Linked DNA regions of Homo sapiens: all the other regions are linked to region 2. The links come from fine-mapping of genetic effects on gene expression. A gene starts in region 2. Each other region holds a variant in brackets. All regions are shown on one strand. Distances are between the middles of the regions.

Region 1 (5,152 bases), 42 kb after region 2:
TTTTTTTTTTTTGAGACGGAGTCTCGCTCTGTCGCCCAGGCTGGAGTGCAGTGGCGCAATCTCAGCTCACTGCAAGCTCCACCTCCCAGGTTCATGCCATTCTCCTGCCTCAGCCTCCCAAGTAGCTGGGACTACAGGTGCCTGCCACCACGCCCGGCTAATTTTTTGTATTTTTAGTAGAGACGGGGTTTCACCATGTTAGCCAGGATGGTCTTGATCTCCTGACCTTGCGATCCACCCGCCTCAGCCTCCCAAAGCGCCGGGATTACAGGTGTGAGCCACAGCGCCCGGCCTTTTTTTTTTGTATTTTTAGTAGGGACGGGGTTTCACCGTGTTAGCCAGGATGGTCTCGATCTCCTGACCTCGTGATCTGCCTGCCTCGGCCTCCCAAAGTGCTGAGATTACAGGCGTGAGCCACCACGCCTGGCCTTAGACCACTGAATTTTCTGGTAATTTGTTACTCAGCAGTAGACAACCAAAAACAGCTTCACCAAGGGATTTATGCATTGGGTTAGAGATTGGCTTAGATAATTTTTTTTCTTTCTTTTTTTTTTTCGAGACAGGGTCCGGCTCTGTTACCCAGGCCAGAGTGCAGTGGCACAATCTCAGCTCACTGCAACCTCCGTCTCTTGGACTCTAGCCATCGTCCCACTTCAGCCCCCCAAGTAGCTGGGACTACAGGGATGCACCACCATACCTGGCTAATTTTTGTATTTTTTGTAGCGATGGGGTTTTGCCATGTTGCCCAGGCTCATCTGGAATTTCTGAGCTCAAGCAATCCGCCCATGTCAACTTTCCAAAGTGAGATAATTTTTACTGTGTCTTTCAACAGTAGGGTTCTAACATTCTGAGTCTTGCTTGTAGGAATGTACCAACAACCTTCATTTAATACTCTCTTTTTTTCCTGAGAACCTAAGGGGAGGCTGTTTGTTGTGGGGGAGGAGGGGAGAAATAAACTACCAGCTCTCAAAAGCTTACAGGGTGCCAGGGGAGAGAGAGACAACTCCATGAGCAACCCTTAGTGCCAACCACACCCCGGGGAGTATAATGGAGGGCAGAGGAGTAACTTTAGAGGTCTGGGCATGAGCAAGCACAAGAGATGGAAAGGAGAACTGTAGAATGATGAATGGTCTGCTGGAAGGAGAGAGAAAAAGTTCATGATGGATGGAGCCAGACATACGCCTGGAAAGGAGGTAGGGTGTGAAGCTCTTAAATGCTACATTAAGGGGGTGGACTTTCCTCTGTGGGCAAAGCAGGATCTTGATACAAAGAAGGATGTGGTCAGATGAAGTTTTAGGAGCACCACTGATGGCAATGATGTGATTCAAGTGATGAGTTTTCAGGCAAGGAGACTAGTTAGGAGATTTTTGCAATGGTCAAGGCCAATGAGCAAGGGTCTGGACAGAGTCTATGACAACGAGGAAGGAGAGAAGGGATGGATATAGCAAAATGGTGGTGGTGAAATCAATAGGGCTTGGCATCAATTAGATGTTGGGATGAGGGAAAGCAAAGAGCAAAGACATCCAAGTCCCAAGCTGGGAGATGAGGAGATGGCAGCACCATCCCACCATGGGGAGCTGGGGAGGGTGTGCAGATTTGCAGGAAAGAGAAAGTGCTTAGATTGACTGCATTGAGGGATTTTTACCCCACAGAGAAGGGAGATAGGTGGAGGCTGGAGGAGAGGTGAGAGCTTGGGTGAAAAGCCTGGTGATGGAGAGAGATGGGCTGGGCTCACTTTCTGCAGCTCATGTTGAGGATGTAGGCAGGTTCTGCTAATTCTCCAGGTCATGGAAAAGGTAATAATGACAACTGCATTCTGAAAATGGAAAAAAAAATCCCAGAATCTTTATATTGGGTTACAGAGGGAACTCTGAAGATGAGACAGCTGGAAACCGGTTTTTAAAAACCATTCTGCTGTGGCTGGTGCCATTTGAATGTAATTTACATGCATATAAAAGTGTTCCTTTAGAAAAAAGGAGATCCTGAGGCCAGATAAAATTTGCATTTATTTCCCCCGTGCTTTCTTAACTCCTAAAATTGCTTCTGGACATTTCTCCTTCTGTTCAAGACCACAGAACACGGCTCAATAAACATCC[T/C]GTGCTCTTCTTCCACCCCGGGGTCCTGTGACCTTCCTTCTCTGCTTGCAATCTCCCTCCCTCCTCCCACTCCCACCTCTTCCTGGTTTTACTCTTAACGAACAGACATGGTTGATTCTGTTCAGTTGTTTATTAATTTTTTTTCCATTTTCTATTCAAGGCCACTCCCTTTTTTTTTCTCCTTTAAGTTTGGAGTTCCTTTTGGCCACCTAATGAACTCCTATACAACTTTAGAAACGATTACTGCTTTATTTCCAATAAGATTAGAAGTGGTGGGAAAATTTTCTACTTCTCAATTTTCTCTTGAAAATTTTAGACTTTACCAGAACTTCTCTAGGCAAGGCTGACGCCGACAAAACAACATGATGTGGTGTACCCTGTCCCTCCCGGGGATCATCACAAACCCTGTCTTCTCTTTACCTGTTTGATAACTCATTCACTTCTCTGGTCAGCATTTATGGAGCACCTGATATCTGCTATGTCCTGTGCTGTGAACTGGCAATGGAGGAATGAACAGCATAGGTTTGGTTCTGCTTTTTTGGAGTGCTTCAGCTCACTGTGGTGTTATTGGGGCCAGACTAACAACAAAAATGAGGATGCCTTTGTCACCTGAAAAATGATGAGGTTCATAAATTTGGAAAGGGGAGCTTTATATCTCCTAAAGGGTTGCAGCCTGCAGGTGGCTATTTTGACAGGCTGGGAAGCCCAGCTTCTGGTCAGAAGCTGGTAGCAGGCACTTTGAGGCAGGGAAGAATGAGACAGGAGTTTATGCTGACCAGGTTAGCTGAGTCTACATATTACAATTAGACCCTATACATCAAAAGGCAAAGCAGAGGGCGTGAAGGCCCTTAGGGTACATCCTCTGTAGACTGGCCAGAACTACTCTGTGGTCGGTGGTCTCTTATCAGGAAGGAAGGCTGGTCAGTTGTTGTGTCAAAACCATGAAAAGGGAGGGGCAGCATCAGGCTGTTGGTTGATATCAGTCTTTCAAAAGGGCTGGTTTCTATTTAGTCCTTAGGGAAGAAAGCCTAATGGTGGTTACTGAGGCAAGTCTGATCTCCTCTCCCATCATGGCTGGGAACTCAGTTTTTAAAGTTTCTCATGAGTCCCCTTGGCCAAGAAAAGGTCTGTTCCATTGCTTAGGGGGCCTAGGATTTTAAAAAATTTTTCACTTTCTAGAAAAGGCATTTGTCTTGATGACATTTTCCACAGGATTCTGGCAGACCCTGGCCTCTGTGGGTTCCTGTGGTGTGCTGTTACTGATGGGTTATGAGGAGAAGGGAGATTGAATAAGCTGGACAGCTCAGAGGGCTTTGGGCAGCCAGAGCAAGGCGATTAATTCCTAGGCAGCAGGGGAGTCTTTGCGTGTCTGGCCTTTTGGCTGCTAAACCTCAGAAAAATGGGCTTTTCTTTCAGTGGTATTAGATGGCTCAGAGAATTCTGGTAGTTGCAACAGCAATGAGAATTTTTAGGCAATTTCAGCTTTGAGCGTTATTTTAGCAAGACCATGTGTAATGCAACAGTAGTTGCAAAATGTTTTCCTTTGTCGTCCCCATCCTTGTGAAGAGCTTTCCTTTATCACAGTAAATGGCCAGTCATTTTCCTCTGAGATGGGCGGTTGCTGTAGGCCTCTGGTTCCCTGGGTGGTGTCCTACTCTCCAGGTGAAGAAGAACTGATTGAACATGGCCCTACAATTTAACTTGCTGCTTCCTTTTAGTCACAGCCAGTTGAAGTAGGAACATTGCATTGTAATCTGAGGTGGTTAAGGGCCACTTATCCACCATAGGCCAGTCAGACACTTATCCACTGTGTGCCAGTCATTTCCTGGGCTCCAATCTCCTTGTTATGGGCTGAATTATGTCCCTGCTAAAATCCGTATTTTGAAGTCCTAATCCCCGGGACCTCAGAATGTAACTATATTTGGAGATAAGCTCTTTACACAGGTAATTCAGTTAAAATGAGATCGAGTGGGTTAGACCCTACTCCAATATGACTGCTGTCCTTATAAAAAGGGAGATTTGGACACAGACGGGCACACACTCAGAGGGAAGGCTGTGAGTGACACAGCAAGAAGGCAGCCAGCCAAGGAGAAGGGCCTCAGCACGAAGCCAACCCTGCCACACCTTGACTTTGGATTGCAGCCTCCATGATTGAGGAAATAGAGTTCTGTCATTTAAGCCTCCTCAATCTGTGGTACTTCGTTATGGCGGCCTGAGCAAATTGATACACTCCTTATCTGCACAAGGAAGTGGCAGCATGCAGTTGATGTCCCTCTGGCTCTGACAGGCCTTGACTGTATTCTTCCTGACACCTGCTCCTGCCTGGAAGACCCCAGTGGGTCAGGGGTGGGTCCTTTGGTATACTTCAATAGATCAACAAGCAGATAAAAGGAGATAACTGTGCATTTTTACTCCTTTGTTTTAAAAATGACAAGATTTTTGTTCCTTCTGACCTGACATAGACTGGGGACTTTTCTCCAATTCAATGATTAATTTTTTAATGCTAAAAGTAGACAAAATTCCGATTTCCTTATGACCCACTCTCTAAGAGTTGGGAATTAAGGGCTAAAGAAGGTAAGTGACTTCTTCTAATTGTTCACCAAATACTTTTTCATCTGTTTTTTCCAGGCTACCACCTCCCTCCCTCTGGCCAGAAGAAGAGGGAAAGTTGAAAGGGAAACGCTGGGGTGTTGGGGTATCAGGCAGAGTGAAGGGAGCAGGAGGGAAACGGGGAGATTAAGGAAAGGTCTGAATTCTGAATGGTGGGACCTGCAGCCAGGGTTGCCCCTAGGGTGTACAGAGTTGGCAAATATTTCTTTGTGCAGTCTTTGTTTATATTAAAAATCCGAGTCACATAAAATCAGCCTTTTAGCACTATTCTGGTGACCCAATCTCATGTGATCCTCTGCTAAAAATACTGTGCTGGCAAGGGCTTCATCTGGTTGCTAGGCTACCCTTCTGGAACCAGGACCCCCGCACTGGGGCCCAGGGTGACTTCATAAATAGGAATCCTGGAGTTCCTTGGGATATCTGCTCAATCTCTTGATGAGGGATAT
Region 2 (5,103 bases):
GCGCGACCCCTGCTCCTGGGGTCCTCTGGGGTCCTCTGGGGTCCTCCCGCACACCCAGGCCAGGCACACCCAGGTTGCGAAGCCGAGTGCCTCCCCGTGCGGCCGCCAGGGAGCGCCCCAGGCCTGGCCGAGTCCCCCGCCCTCCACCCCGCCAGGCCCAGGAGAATTGATAGGCGGGCCCCGAAGCACGTCTTCCCGGAAACCGGACTTCACCCGCTCCCGGGCTGCCATCCGCGGCTGGGTGACGCTCACGTCCCCGCGATTCGGTGTCTCTTGGCCTCCTGCCCCGCTGACCTGGGAGTGCCAGGGATCACCCCGCCCCCAGCGAGATCCCCTCTATCGCACAAAATGGGCGCTAGCGGGGGTCATTCTAGTCCGGCTGCCTCACTCTCCCGACGGTCCTCCAGGGTGGCACCATCACCGTTCTCGCCCGCCTCCAGCCGGCCCATTCCTGCTGCTCCCTACAGCGTTGTCCCTGCCCCGTGCCCTCTTGTGGTCGTAGGTATCTGGCGGCCCGGGAAAGACAAAAAGAAGCTGCCCGCAGGAGCCCAGACCCTGGGGGCCTTCCTCCCCTTGTCTCCTCTTTGGACTCGGGGGTCTCCCACCAGCCACGGCGAGGGGGAGAAAGAGAATAGCTGGGCAGAGGCTAGGGAAGACCCCCGGTCTCAGAAACTGAGGGGAGCCAGGACTCCCGGTGGGGGAGTCGGTGCAAGCCCTGAGGTGGGTGGATGGGAGTCCAGGGCCACAGCTCTGCAGCGGACAGGCGAGTCCTGTGGCGGCTCTAGGAAGGTCTGGGCACACTGGGACCAGCTAGCTGGACCTGGGTGGGGAGGGGTGGGGCGTCTGACTCCACTCCTGTGACCTGGACATTGCCTAGCTGAGCAGGAGCTTTGACCCTATGGGCTTACAGCTCATCTGAATCTGCTTAGTCCATCTTCCTGTTGTGTTAACCTTGCAGAGGGGGAAGAATGCCAACTCTCCACCCCTCTTCCATCACTCTTGGGTACCTGATCCACCTTCCACCCTCATGGGCAAGGAAGGGGACAGGAAGGTCACCAATCCAACCAAGCCACAGTGCCAAATCCTGTTGGTTCGTTTGTTTTCCCTTGGTTGGGTTATGTTTTCAAACCATCAACAGATTCATAGTTGCTAGTGGATGTCAAATTTCAAAACGGGGGAGTCCCAATACAGTGACTTGTCCATTAGGAAGCCATAGGCAAGCCACTTACTTTCTCTGAGCTTCAATATCCTTGTCCCAATAAGAAGGCATCTGTGATTTGCTCTGAGCACATATTTAGGGTGAGCTTTCACCCTAAAGATCTCAGCAACGGCAGCTTCTACCCACCTTCACACACCAAAGAGAGGGTGGCTTCCCTCCCAGCAGAAGGCAACATCCCGCCATTCCAGTGTGCTTCTGATCAGGGCACAGAGAAGAGCCAGTTTCATCTTCTTTCTTTTTGGTCAACTCCAGGCATCTGCAACAAACAAGATTAACAACGACCATTAAAACTGGCCCCTGGAGGGTTTATCTGTCAGCCACGCATGGCTGCAGGATCTCATTATATATAGGCCAAAGGGAAAGGATGTCTGCTTCCTTTCTGTCCTGGAATTCCAAGATAAAATCCCCTCCAGTTGTCTCTACTGATTCCATTTTGTTTTCTTTCTTGGCTGTAACACAGATAGGAGGAAAAATCTTTCCTCCCCCAAGGCAGAGTTTTAAACGCATCATCTCAGAATGCCAAATGTTCTGGAAAGGAAGAAAGTTGGCAGCGAAGGAACCCGCAGAGAGAGGGGCTGAGAGGGCTGAGGGGCCCAGCAGCTTCTGGCAGGCTCCTCTGGTCTGTGTTTGAAATTGGCTGAAAAGACATGGAATTTAGTAGGCAAGTCTGCCTCCTTCTCCTCCTCTTATCTGCAGAGGAGAGATCAGTTCCCAGCTGGCCGGGGCAGTGTCATTGATATAGCTGGTGTCATTGTTACCTTCCACTAACAGATCACTCGACACCTACCAGCCCAGGCAGGGCTGGGACTGGGCATTTCCTGGCTGAGCTGGAGGCTTGGGCCCTTCCCATTGTCTCAGAACCCCAGGTGATGCCAAGACATGGGCTCTCCTGGGATGCCGTGCTTGGTGACCCAGGAGAAGGACTAGATTGCTCCTGGTGGTTGCTCCCCCTTGCAGAGTCCCACCTGCCCCTTTGGGTCCTGTTGCCTGGCCTCTTTTGCTGTCCTGGGTAGAGGAGATGAGTTCGTCGCTGGCTGCAAGCTGAGGCCAACTGACAATGCTGCACAGAGAAGGGGCACCGAGAGTGGCCCCGGATTGAGCAGTCCGTAGTGCAGAGCAGCCCCTCGGGCGTTCTGCCTGGCCCTGCTTCCCCTGCTGGCTGCCCTTCTGGTGCGTGCATCCCAGGTGGCATCATGCTGCAGCAGATCCTGCACGACATGTACATCGACCCCGAGCTCCTTGCCGAGCTCAGCGATGTGCAGAAGCACATCCTCTTCTACAAAATGCGGGAGGAGCAGCTGAGGCGCTGGAAGGAGCGGGAGACTTGGGAGGCCCTGGCCCAGGACGAGGGTCTCAGGCCTCCAAAGACCAAGCGAGGTACGTGGCTGGGAGTCACAGAGAGGTAGGCCACCAGTCCCCCAGGAGGTAGAAAAATTAGCAGGGCCAGGCTGTGCCCTTCTTCAAGATGGGCACTGGGGTGATGAGGGCTGGGGGCTTGAAACCCTTGTCTTGTGGGCATCAGGTCCCATGAGCCTGTGCTTTTGCCTTTTGGCCAGGACCTTAGGGCTTCGAGGCTGCTGCAGAGGCTGTCCAGCGGCCCTTATTGGAGTCGGGGAGTTGGGACTTGCTTTGTCTTGTTGTGGAAGGCCCGAGTTCTGGGAAGACACCATTGAGACTTCAGATTGTGCTCCGACGTGGTTGGCAATGGTAGGGTGAACGACGGCATATTTGTGACCCTTGCCATTGGTTCTGGGCCAGAGTGTGGTGTAGATATGCAGTTCCTTTCTCCTTGGCATGCGTGGCACACCAGTTCTTGGCTAGGGCCCCTTCTGTGGACTGTGCCTCTCCCTCCAGATCCTCCGGCAGGAGGATGCTGTGGGTTGTCTCTGGAGCCCCACTGGGCATCCGGAGAGAGGGCATCAGGGAACGTCCCACACAATGAATGACCATCCCCAAATGGTCGTAGCAACTGCAGATGAGAAGCAAGGGCCTAGCCTACATTTCAGGTGTTTTGTATGCAAAGTCATGTGCCAGTCAATCCTATGGACTGGTACACCTGTGGGTGAAGGAAATCATCCAGGACCCCTGGGCCAGAAACTGGCAGGCTGCTGAGGCTTGGCTTGGCACAGGACTCAATCCTGCCAGGGATTGTAGTTTCTGTGGATGCTGCATGCACTTTACAGTTTGCAAGGCTTATGTGCCTTCACCCTTTGAAGTTTTCAATCCAGAACAAAGTCCTGTTTCAGGGCTGAGCACACAGCTCCCTTGGTGATCTGGCTCTTCTCCATGCCAGGCTCACTGCTGGCCAGTCCCCACCAGGTGCCACAGGCCACACCCACATCATCTGGACATGCTTGCTCTTGTCTCTGGTCTTCACATGAGTGGCTCTCACCGTTGGGAATGTCCTTCTGCCTTCATCCACCTGACAGACTCCATCAGGAGTGGCCCCCCTGCCCTGGAGTGTTCAGGGATGCTCTTGCATAGGGCAGTACTTGCTCCTCTGTGGCTGCCTGGCATGTAGGACCCACGCCTGCCCTGGCATTTGCCACCCTGTCATTGTCATTCCTCATCTGCTTGCCTGGCTCTCCGATGGGCTCAAAGGCACTGGTGTGTGAGGGCTTCCTCCACTCTATCTTCCTCCCCTGGGCCCAGCACAGAGGTGGCACATGGTGTTAAATCCTTGTTTTGAACAAGACACAGCAGGACCCTGCCGGGGAGGTTGGGGCAGAGCTGTGACTTGGCTGCAGGTGGCTGCTGCCAAAGCTGGGGCCTTCCGGGCTGGGCTGCGCTGGCAGCTGCATCACTAACTGGTGAAATGACAAGCCACCTTGCCAGCACCACCCGGCCTGAGCCCTGGGGACTCATGATGCCTGCATGATGACTCTTCTTGGAGGGAGACAGATGCCTAAAAATTTAACTGCAAAAATATTTATACAGAGATTTGTCACACATAGACATCTACATTTTCATGTATAAATTATACATTAAACTCATTTGAGTTTCTGGTGCAGAAGATCCTTTTTCTGGTAATTAATTTTCTGATTTATAAAGAATGGAAAAGCAGGAAAGCACGCCGAGGAATGTGTGTATCCCAGGTCAGGATCCCGCTTGGATCCTGGCTCTTTGCTTCGGTCCTGCCTTTTGGAACTGTCTGGGCATGCCACTGGGGAGCCTGGGGGCTGGCCCTGCCCAGGAGCCGGAAGAGCTTTCGGCCGGAGGGTCCAGGATATACAGTATCTGCTTCATGTCCTGGGGTCGTGATGAAGGGTGGCAACAACTTGTGAGCTTTACGTTGACTGGGTGCCTACCCAGCCCTTGCTGCTCCCGTGTCCCTGCGGGGTGGCAGGGCAAGCTCCCTGATTTCATTGCAGATAAGGAAGGTGAGGCTCAGAGAAGTGATGCGCTACATCCAAGGTCATCCAGCTGCTACATCTCATGACTTGGATCTGGGGTCTGGTGACTGATTTTTTTTCTGTTCATTCACTTCCAAACTCGGAACTCCAATTAAACAAGTGAGCTGTGCACACATTCACTTGTTCACTCATTCACCAATTCATTCACTTATCCAGCATTACTATGTGCTGATTTCAGTGAATGGGGCAGTGCTTGTCCTGGAGACGGTGGGTAGATGGATCATAGGGAACACAGCCAACTCGAGTGCCAAGGGTGAGGCTTGGTTCAAAGCAGCCGTGCCGTGTCCCAGGGCGGGAATTGTGCGGGGACGGGCTCCACGGAGGAATCTTCTCTTCCTTCCCTTGATGTTGCCAGAGGACTCAGGAGGCTCTCCAGATGCTGGTGAGACCCCAGCCCCAGTTGATGTCCAGGCTCTTGAAACTGTCTTGAGAAAGAACTCGGGAATGAGTCAGAATGATAGGAAAGGCAAG
Region 3 (5,152 bases), 91 kb after region 2:
GATTCTATATATGTTAGACTTCCCATTCCATCTGCCATGTGTCTTAACCTCCTGAGATTTAGATTAAGCTTCTCTCATGTTAGATTTATATAAATGCCCCATGGGTGTGTCATGCCTGGTCTTCATTCTGACTTTTCACTCATCTTGTCCCTTCTCTCCCTCACACCTCATTACTACCCCTCACTGCTTACACAGAATCTATCTGGCCTTCAAGGCCCACCTCACATTCCCATTCAGTGCCTCCACAGAGCCTTCCCTGATTTCTCAACCTCTTCCTTCTTGTTTATTTCACAGCATTTACCATCCTTTGCATGAGACAACATGGTATAGAACAGAGAGAGCACTGGACTTGGAGTCCGAGGACCTGAGTTCAGATCTGCCTCCACCACTTAATAGATTCTCTGTGACTATTAAGCCCTGTGACTTTGGGTGAATCCCTTCTTTTCCTGACATTCAGTGTCCTCAGTTGTGAACTGGTTATAACAGGGTTGATAGGAAGACCAAAGGAGAAGGGTCACAGAGGCCCCAGATCGTGCCTAATGCTGGCTGTGACATAAGCGTCTCACAGGAGCCTGAGTGTGTCGTTTAACCTCTGTGCGTCAAAATGGAAGCCATTTCTGGGAGGGTAGGGGTCAGAGAGCCAGATATCAATGGTACACTGTGAAATGTAGCCATGAAGCAATTCTTAAGTGAGGAAGCCCTCACTGAGCTGAAATCCTTGGCTCTGAACCGTAATCCTTCAATCCATTTTCCACACTTGAACATTCTTATATCTTTCTTCTGTATAGGAAACATCAGTGGCTGTCCGCTGCCCTCAGAATTAATCCTTTCAGTGGTATGGAGAGCCCTTTGGAGCTTGACTGCTGCCTATCGTACACCTCTGGCCATTGCCCAGCTCCCAGCTTAGCCCTCCCTCCAGCCACAAAGAGCCACTTGCTAATGACTTTTGCAATCTTCCCTCCTTGCCTTGCCCCCTCTTGTCCCTTTCTGGACTCAGTCTAAACATCACTTCCGCCGCTGGGCTCCAGAACTGGGTGGGGTGCCTCCCTTAGGTGCAGCCACAGTGCCTGAGCCAATAGCTTATGTGGCCTTTATCACCATTGCTCACAGTTAGCCTTTTATTTTTATATTACAAAATTCCCATCAATCTTCATTTCTGTCCAGAGTCAGAGCTTCTAGAAGGCAAGAACTGTGTCTCATTCACTGCTGACTCCCAGGTGCCAAGTTTGGGGCCCGGCTTCTAGATGGTGCTTCATACATATTTATTAAAGGGAGGAAGAAGAAAAGGAAGAAAAGGAAGGAAGCGGGGAGAGAAAATGTTCCTGGAAACTATAGGAAAAACAATGTTTACCATTGTCTGGGAATGAGAACTGGCTCAGAATCAATCTTCAGTTGCATTCTCCAATATTCATTCTAAAATTGTCACCCTGGAGCGTTGGCTGGTTAGGCTGCATCCCTTAGCCAGGCCCAGTCATTAGCAGAGTGAGGAAGTTTCAAGGACTCGGACAGTATGCTAGCTCCCCAGCTGGAAGGGGTGAGGTAGGGCCTTCCCCTGTTTCCTCAGCCAGGAGGTTGTAGGGTGCTCAGAAGAAGCAGAGGTGGGTGATGATTCATGCTTAATTCCCAGACCCTCTGTAGTTGGCTGAGAGGCAATCCAGGGGGAGAGAGAGATCAGAGGGTGATATGGTTTTGCTGTGTCCCCACCCAAATTTCATCTTGAATTCCCACGTGTTCGGGAGGGACCCAGTGGGAGGTAATTTGAGTAATGGAAGCAGGTCTTTCCTGTGCTATTCTCGTGATAGCAAATAAGTCTCATGAGATCTGTTGGTATTATAAGGGGGAGGTTCCCCACAGAAGCTCCTCTTTTTGCCTGCTGCCATCCACGTAAGATGTGAGTTGTTCCTCCTTGCCTTCTGCCATGATTGTGAGGCCTCCCCAGCCATGTGGAACTGTAAGTTCGATAAACTTTTTTAAATTGCCTAGTCTCAAGTATGTCTTTATCAGGAGCATGAAAACGGACTTATACAGAGGGCAAAGTGAATGGGGAAGGAAAACATAGATTCTCCTTGCAAGCATCCTATGCTAATTCTCTTGAGGGGTTGGGTTTTCTATGGAATGCTGTTTGCTATCCTGAACTATGAGGTTATATTACCTTTGGTTTTGTGCCAAATTGCAATTTTGATTTCTAGGCAAATGTATTAGGCCATTCTTGCATTGCTATAAAGAAATACCTGGCCAGGCGTGGTGGCTCATGCCTGTAATCCCAGCACTTTGGGAAGCTGAGGCGGGTGGATCATGAGGTCAGGAGTTTGACCACCACCAGCTTGACCAACATGGTGAAAGCCCGTCTCTACTAAAAATACAAAAATTAGCCAGGCATAGTGGCGCATGCCTGTAATCCCAGCTACTCAGGAGCCTGAGGCAGGAGAATTGCTTGAATCTGGGAGGTGGAGGTTGCAGTGAGCCGAGATCGTGTCACTGCACCCCAGCCTGGGTGACAGAGCGAGACTCTATCTCAAAAAAAAAAAAGAAAAAGAAAAAGAAATACCCAAGACTGGGTAACTTACTAATATATAGAAAAGAGGTTTAATAGACTCCCAGTTCTATAGGCTGTACAGGAAATATGGCCCTAGCATCTGCTCGGCTTCCAATGAGGCCTCAGGAAGCTTCCTATCCATGGTGGAAGGCAAAGGGGAAGCCAGCATATCACATGG[C/T]GAGAGGGGATGCAAGAGAGAGAGAGTGAGGGGGAAGATCCTACAGACTTTTAAACAACCAGATCTCACAAGAACTCACTCACTATCCTGAGGATGGCATCAAGGAGATGGTGCTAAACCATTTGTGAGAAATCACCTCCCACTAGCCCTACCTCCAACACTGCAGATGATAATTCAACATGAGATTTAGAGGGGACACACATCCAAACTATATCAGCAATATCAAAAAGGAGGCAGAATTCACAGAGACCTAGACAGTCTCCCAGAAATGGCCCAGCTAAGTTTATGGTGCTGAAGTCACCTTCAGCAGCCTATGTTTGAGAGAATTGAGTGTGTGTGTGTCAGGGGTTGTGGTGGGGGACACAGCCTGACAGTCCTGTGACCATTGCAGCTACCAGCACCAGGCAGTTTGCAGCACTAACACATGTGTAGAATACTTAGTGCATCCAATGCAGCTAGTTATATTGTATTAGATATTTATTGTGATTTTTAAGCACTGTGCTAAACGTATTCATGCATTAACTTATTCATTCTCAAACAGCCGTAAGACATAGCTATTAATATCAATACCACTTAATAGATGAGGACCTCAAACTCGGTTTCAGAGAGGTTGAAGTCACCTGCTCTCAAGGCTACCCATGGAACAAGTCCCGGGTTATGATTTGTGTCCATGCTCTTCATCACTGCTGCAGAATCCCTGCCAATGTCCCAGGCATGGAGGATGTAAAGATGAGTTGTCTGTGTCCGTCAGGTCTTCCATGAAGCAGAAGACGAAAGACTGATTGGAGGAAATGCCTGTGAAGGACAAAGGGGGAGGGTGCTGGAGAAGGTGGGGAGAGTCTTCAGAACACGGTACACATCTGACACCTGTGGAGGGAGAGAGGGAAGAAGGATGATTGGTAAGTGAGCCTGCTCCTGGAGTACAGCTCAGAGAAAAATCTTGGCCAGGCTGATTGAGAGCCCCAGAGCAAAGACTGCCTGCTAGAGGAATCTTGCTTTGGGTAGGAATGGTGGCTCTAGTACCCCTGTGCCCTGCCCTTGACTGGAAGCACCCTAGGGAGAACATGACCCCATGGAGGATCCTGAAGGGCATGATGCTGCTCCCAGCAACAGGTCTCTGTCTTGGAGGGAGGCCTGGGCTGCTTGCTCCCATGGCAGCCACAGGCCCCAGCCTTGAGCGGCTCATAGCCTATTTACTAATCTACTGTGGGGTTTTGGCAGGATGTTGTGAAAACCCAAATGTGGGATATCCAAGACAGTCTCCTGGGAGATAAAGGATTTCCTGATCAGCTGAGCAGGTTGCACACTGAACTGGGGGACCTGAGGGGTGGGGATAGTTGGGGAGAACAGAGGATTGATGTGCAGGCACTGCCTTTCCCAATCAAGCTATAGGCTTTGTGGTTTTGGCCCAGAGAGGCACATTTTTCTAATTCAGTTACTCAGGTCATCTTTTCCTAACTTGCACAAAGGTAGAGTGTAGGCTGCCCATAGCCCATGATTCTGGGGAGAGAAGAGGATGGGGCTTTCAATGAGGAGTCAGGGTCAGCTGGAGTGAAGGGGGCTGGGATGTGGCCTCAGTCCAAGGTCGGCTTGTGGGGAGCAGCCAGTACCAAACAGTGCGATGAGCCCAGAGGGGTAGGTTGAGGCGGGGCATAGAGCCTGCTGTCTGCTGTGCCTGAGCCTGGGCTCTGCTGGAAGTCAGGGGAAGCTGCTCAAGGGTTTTAGGTGGGTGAGACACATAACATCGTCACTTTGGTATTACTGGTCGTTTTGGCATGTTAAAAGTCAAGTCCACAAAATAACGTGTTGGCAAGTGTTGGAGGAAAGAGACCCCTTGCACATTCTCTTAAAGCATGAAAATACAAATTAAAATAGAAGTACCCCATAATCTCAGCAACCCCATTACTGGGTATTTATTCAAAGGATATGAAATCAGTATGTCGAAGAGATATCTATACTGCCATGTTGATTGTAGCATTATTCACAATAGCCAAGATAGGGAATCAATGGAAGTGTTTGTTTATTTATTAATGTATTTTTGAAATAGAGCCTTGCTCTGTTTTCCAGGCTAGAGTATAGTGGCATGATCATAGCTCACTGCAGCCTTGAATTCCTGGGCTCATGTGATTCTCTCACCTCAGCCTCTTGAGTAGCTGGGACCACAGGCATGTGCCACCATGCCCAACTAATTTTTTATGTTTTTGTAGATTCAGGGCCTTGCTATGTTGCCCAGGCTGGTTTTGAATTCCTGGGCTCAAGCGATCCTCCCACCTTGGCCTACTAAAGTGCTGGTATTATAGGCATGAGCCACCACACCAGGCCTAACCTAAATGTCTATTAACAGTTGAATGGATAAAGAGATGTGGTGTATGTGCACAATGGAATAGTATTTGGCCTTTAAAAAGAATGAAATCCTGTCATTTGTGACAACATGGATG
Region 4 (5,152 bases), 73 kb after region 2:
AAGCATCTGGGAACCGCAGTTCAGACACGAAAGCAATGACGAGCTTGGCTCACCTGTGAGAAAACTTTAAAACGTATCTACTCCCTCGTCTAAACTCTTCCCGTGCTCCTCCTCCTCCCGCCCTCCGTGCCTTCAGTCCCTCACCCATTCCATCCGTAGTTACCAACGTGTGGTTTTGTTTCCTTCCGCCTCCGTATCCTCTGTCATAGTTTTTATTTTCTGGGCAGGGAATCTCAGCCATTTCCAGAGCAAATTGAGGTTCTCCAGCTTCTCTCTCTGTTCACTGCCCTGGTTCTGCCTTACAAAAGCGCAGGAGTTGTGGCACAGGCAGGCGTCCCCTCAGAGGGCGGGGAGGGAGAGCTAAGGAGGGGACAAGACCCAGAATTGTTTCTGAGAGAGAGAAGGGGATGAGACACGCTCATTTACTTTCCGTCAGGAGCCTCCTTCATCCATGCTGGTATTTATGCCCTGGCCGTGCTCGAGGGAAAATGTGCCTTTTCTTTCCCTCAGACACCCCCTCCTAGCCTCTTTTCATTCTCACCTGTGTGGCTGTTTTTTGAAGCAATCGGTAACAGTTTTCTTTTAAATAAATAATAACAGATGGTACATTATAATCTGCAAAATGCCTTCGAGTACCTGGGCTGTTTTAATCCTCTTTGTAGGCATGGATATGGGCACCATGCTTAGCATATTCATTCTCTCATGGCCCTCCCCTGCCCCTTCTTCCACCCCCCCTTCCTCCTCCTCCTTTTACCTTCCTCTCCCTTCCTCTTTCCTTCCCCTCTGCCTTCCTCTCCCTCCGCTCTTTCTCCCTCCCTGACTCTTCTGCCCTCCCCACTTTCTTTCTCTTCAGCAGGACCTGGGAGCGCCCGCTGCGCCCAGTCTCCAGAGATGTCATCGTCCGCTGGTTTAAGGAGGAGCAGCTGCCTCGCCGAGCTGGCTTCGAGAGGAACACCAAGTTCATCGCCCCCTGGTTCCATGGTAGCACCATTTTTCTGGGCCCTGTGCCAGATGATTTCCACATCTTTGCCTCTCTCTGGGGTTGGGGAGGGGTGCTGAAGGACAGTTATAATCAGGGGGCAGAGGACTTTAAGCAATCTCCATTCTGTCCCTCTCCCAGTGGGAGTCCAGGAGGCTGCAGGCCCCAGGGATGCTGAACGGGCCTCCCAACTCTTCTGGGAAGGGATGAACATGGCTCTCGCCCACTGCTGTCACCTCACAGCCTCTGTAGCCACCAAGGGCCCCTCAGAGGCATCTTCTTTGTGGTCATAAGACAGTGAGCCCTGAGAGTTGCATGAGCTGCTGGTGGCTAGGACCCCCATCCCTGGATCCTGGCCACAGCCTGTCACACTGTAGGCTCTGGGTACATACTTGTTGATTAGATGACAGATGGCTGAATGAAGAGGTCAGTGTCACCCAAACATAGACTGTTAGGGCAGGGTGGCTCCTTGAAAGTCCCTCCTTGCTCACCTTGTTTCCAAAGCTCTGGCCTTTTTCCTGTCCCTCAAACAAGCCATCCTCTTTCCCATCTCAGACCTTTTGTGCTTGCCGTGGCTCTGCTCACATTTTCTGTCTTCCAGCAGCTCTTTGCATGGCTGGCACATTCTCATTTTCCATCTCAAACATCCCCTCCTCAGAAAGGCCTTTCCTGAACTCCTTACCTACAGCAGCCTTCCCCAGTGTCCCTCAGCTCACCCTGCTCATTTCCTGGACAGAGTGTGCCCAGTTGGTATTTATCAGATTTACTTATTGTCTGTCCTCCCACCTGAATGTGAGCCTGTGAGGTTAAGGAGCTTGCTTGTTTTCCCTGTGCCTGGCTCAGTAAGTATCCATGGGAAGAATGGATGAAGGTGGGAAGAAAATGTTTGGATTGGGATTAGATCCCAGGCTTTACAGTTCCGAAGAACAGCCCTTGCTTCTCTGCATTGAAAATCCAGAGCCACACATGTGAGGGTCAGATGAGCCTTCCCAGGTGGTCTTAATGCTTGGTGAGGTCAGGGACCTATGTATTAGGCCTCTCTGTATTCAGCCCTCACCCCTGCCTCTCACCCAGGGACCAAGTACAGAAATACCTCCAAGATGAGCTTGCCATCTTCCTCTGTTGCCACTGCTGTTGAGCTCTCCAACCCAATGAATAGCATCCGTGTCATGTTGGTCAGATTGGATATACCTCGGTCACAAATGCTTCTGAAGTCTCAGTGACCCCCACCAGTCAAGGTTTATTTCTTACACATGTTACGTGCCCTTTGGGAGTTGGTTCAGACTTTAGTCTGCGCCTCAGCCTGAAGGAGCTGCCTCTATTTAAAACGCTGATGGTTAGTCAGGCGCAGTGGCTCACGCCTGTAATCCTAGCACTTTGGGAGGCTGAGGCAGGAGGATCACTTGAGGTCAGGAGTTTGAAACCAGCCTGGCCAACATGATGAAAGCTTGTCTCTACTAAAAATATTTTAAAAAATTAGCCAGGTGTGGTGGCAGGCCCCTGTCATCCCAGGTACTCAGGAGGCTGAGGCAGGAGAATTGCTTGAATCTGGGAGGCAGAGGTTGCAGAGAGCCGAGATTGCAACATTGTACTCCAGCCTGGGCAACCAGAGCGAGACTCAGTCTCAAAAAAAAAAAAAAAAAAAAAAAAAAAACATTGATGATCTCATGACAGAGGGAAATGAGAGACTTGGAGAACCACACATTGGCTCCTAAAGCTTTTGCAGGAAACTGACACGTCAAGTTGTTGCTCACATTCTGTTAGCCAGAACCAATGTGGCGTCCATGGTACAGTGGATAGTTTCGAAGGATAATCTAGTCTGTTATGACCACCGTCCACTTTCAGACCTCTTTCTTCTCCCAGGTCACCACACATCTGGCAGAAGGTTGGACTGGCTCTTTAGGGCTCAGAGAGAAGACAGCACTCATGGCTGACTGAGCCATGTGTCCCTGGAGCTGGTGCTGGGGATTCTCTGCCTCTCCCTTCTGTCCCAGTTATGTGTCCCT[G/A]TAGCCCCGGTAGAACTTCCATTTAAGTCACCACTGTGCTTTTTCTTCAGACGTTACTATGGTCATGGAAGTGCAGCACTGGCATCTTAGGGAGCTGTGGAGTGTAACTCAGGAGTGGCACGTGGGTGAGAGTGGGCAGCTGTGCCGGGTGCTCCAACTGCCTTTGGCAGCCAGTGGAGAAGGTGCGACCAAGGTGCTCAAATTATTTTTAGCTTTGTTTTCTTTTTTGACTTTTTTTTTTTTTAAAAGGTAACTTTTATATTGTCACAGAACAAACAGAACCAAGATTTAAGTCTCACAATTTATGTAGCTAATTTCATGTTCTGACAGTTCTACCATAAAGCATGCAGAAAAGTTGCTGTTACACAGGCTGGAGCTATTTTGTGACAGAATTTTCACTGATCTGTGACAGAAGGAAAGAAAAAGGCTCACATATGGAGGGTGGCCAAGTAACTTTGCTTAGAAAGGACTGTGTCATATTCTAAGATTATATCCTTTCCTCAGTTTTAGTGTTAAAATGTCCTATCTTTTATGAATTGATGGGATAGTAAGTCATGGTTATTTTTATATATTGCCTTTGCTTGAAAAAGTAAAAAGTTAGCAGCCCGGGACCTCCCCCACTCCTGCTTTTTTTTTTTTTTTTCAACTTTACTCACTTATAAAATCCCAAAGTCTGGAACAGTGAGTGTGTTCCCACTTCTCTTTCAATATAGGAATTCCCTGGTGGAGGGGCTAGGACTTCCTCTGTACCAATTCCTACAGAGGCAGGTGGCCTGCACCAGTCTAATTTGTTAAGGAGTTTTTGCTGCAGGTTGGCAGGGGACTCGGCTCTCCCTGGGCTTGGTTGGGCGTCTCAGCTGGGGCATCTCTGCACCATGGATCTATTACACTCTTCTGGGACCAGTGGGCCAGCTCAGGCATGCTCTTCTCATGGTGACAGGACAGACATCAGAGAGCAACTGGAAGCATGCCAGGCTCTTGAGCCCTATTCTTAGAGCCAGCACCTTGTCACTTTGCCTTGTACCTCACAGAGCTGAGGAATGGGAAAATATATTCTGTCTTTTTCTTACGAGGAACTGCAGAGTCCTATGTCAAAGGGTGTGGCAACAGAGAGGGAAGAAGAATTTGAGCCAATAATATAATCTGTCAGAATCCCAATACAAATCTTTTCTTTCCCAGATAAAAGAGTCTTAGTTAATTCAGTTAGATTTCATATGCAGGTTAAACATGACTACTCGAATGATTTCCTTCCCTTTCCTCAAACACATGTGGATTTGTGCCAGTGTTATCCAAACAGCAAATAGACAAAGAATCTGAAGATATGGGGTCCATTCTAGAACTTAGCGGCTCTGAGACCTTGGATGTGTCCTTTAAATTCCCCATCTGTGAAACTGGCATTGTAACATCTACTTCACAGGACACTTACGAAGATTGAGCCAACAGGAGTGCTTTGTCCACCATAAAAAGCCATGCCAGTGTGTTTCCTGATGTTTCCTGGGATCTGGGGTCAACCACCAGAGGCTCCTTTGGGAAATCAGGTTTGGGGAAATGGGCACAGAGTGCAGAGTGAGAGGGGACTGGGAACAGGCTTTTCTCTGGGACCACAGGGTTCTAGGTAGAGTCTCCTGGGTTACAAAGAGTGATAGTAATTCCTTGTTTCTCCTTTGTTCATTGTTATGTTCCAGGAATTGGGAGAGAGATTGTAGTTATATCAAACTACTTGTGAGAAATGCTAGTACATATAACCTTGGCTTTGGGGAAAAAGGTATTTTCAAAATTCGACATGTATCTAAAATTATTAAGAATGTTCTCTGTCTGAACATTGGCTCAGTCAGAACCCATTTCTCTTCCTGAGCTTTACTTCTACAAAAACAGTCACAATGTGGTCTATGATTTATTGTCTGGGTGACAACCCATTGGCTGCCTTGCTGCTTGCCCATAGGGCTTGGCACAGAATGGGACTACCCGGTGGGTGACATCATTGGCATTGGTAAATTATCTCCATGTGACCCTGCTCAGGTGCTGGGAGTGGATCTCAAGCGTGGCCTCACCTGGGCTTGGGTGGGCCTTTGGCTGTCCTCTGTAGGGTGTTACTGGCATGCTTCTTCGTGAGCAAGCACAAACGGGGGACCCCACCTGGGAGGAGGATACTCCCCAGCCATGTAGA

Evidence for each region. PIP is the estimated chance that this variant, and not a neighbour inherited with it, causes the effect.
Region 1: its variant is fine-mapped to the expression of SH2D4B in lung (TOPMed, PIP above 0.99).
Region 3: its variant is fine-mapped to the expression of SH2D4B in whole blood (TOPMed, PIP above 0.99).
Region 4: its variant is fine-mapped to the expression of SH2D4B in thyroid (GTEx, PIP 0.93).

The regions. Positions count from the first base shown.
Region 1 is chr10:80,577,433-80,582,584 of GRCh38, forward strand. The region is part of intron 3 of SH2D4B (SH2 domain containing 4B); the gene reads left to right. Among named protein-coding and RNA genes, the nearest start is that of SH2D4B, 42 kb to the left of the region's middle. The variant T/C (reference allele first, on the strand shown) is at 2,097.
Region 2 is chr10:80,535,920-80,541,022 of GRCh38, forward strand. SH2D4B (SH2 domain containing 4B) reads left to right here and starts at 1,983. Exons shown (of 8, transcript NM_001388272.1): 1 at 1,983-2,596. The coding sequence starts at 2,413. TSPAN14-AS1 (TSPAN14 antisense RNA 1) reads right to left here and starts at 23. Exons shown (of 2, transcript NR_120661.1): 1 at 1-23. RefSeq lists a silencer at 21-210 and enhancers at 281-380, 3,687-3,826, 4,864-5,043.
Region 3 is chr10:80,626,513-80,631,664 of GRCh38, forward strand. All of the region lies in intron 6 of SH2D4B (SH2 domain containing 4B), which reads left to right. It overlaps LOC105378387 (a long non-coding RNA gene), which reads right to left. Exons shown (of 2, transcript XR_946132.1): 2 at 3,174-3,581. Among named protein-coding and RNA genes, the nearest start is that of LINC02655, 21 kb to the right of the region's middle. The variant C/T (reference allele first, on the strand shown) is at 2,715.
Region 4 is chr10:80,608,571-80,613,722 of GRCh38, forward strand. It overlaps SH2D4B (SH2 domain containing 4B), which reads left to right. Exons shown (of 8, transcript NM_001388272.1): 6 at 854-981. Among named protein-coding and RNA genes, the nearest start is that of LINC02655, 39 kb to the right of the region's middle. The variant G/A (reference allele first, on the strand shown) is at 2,986.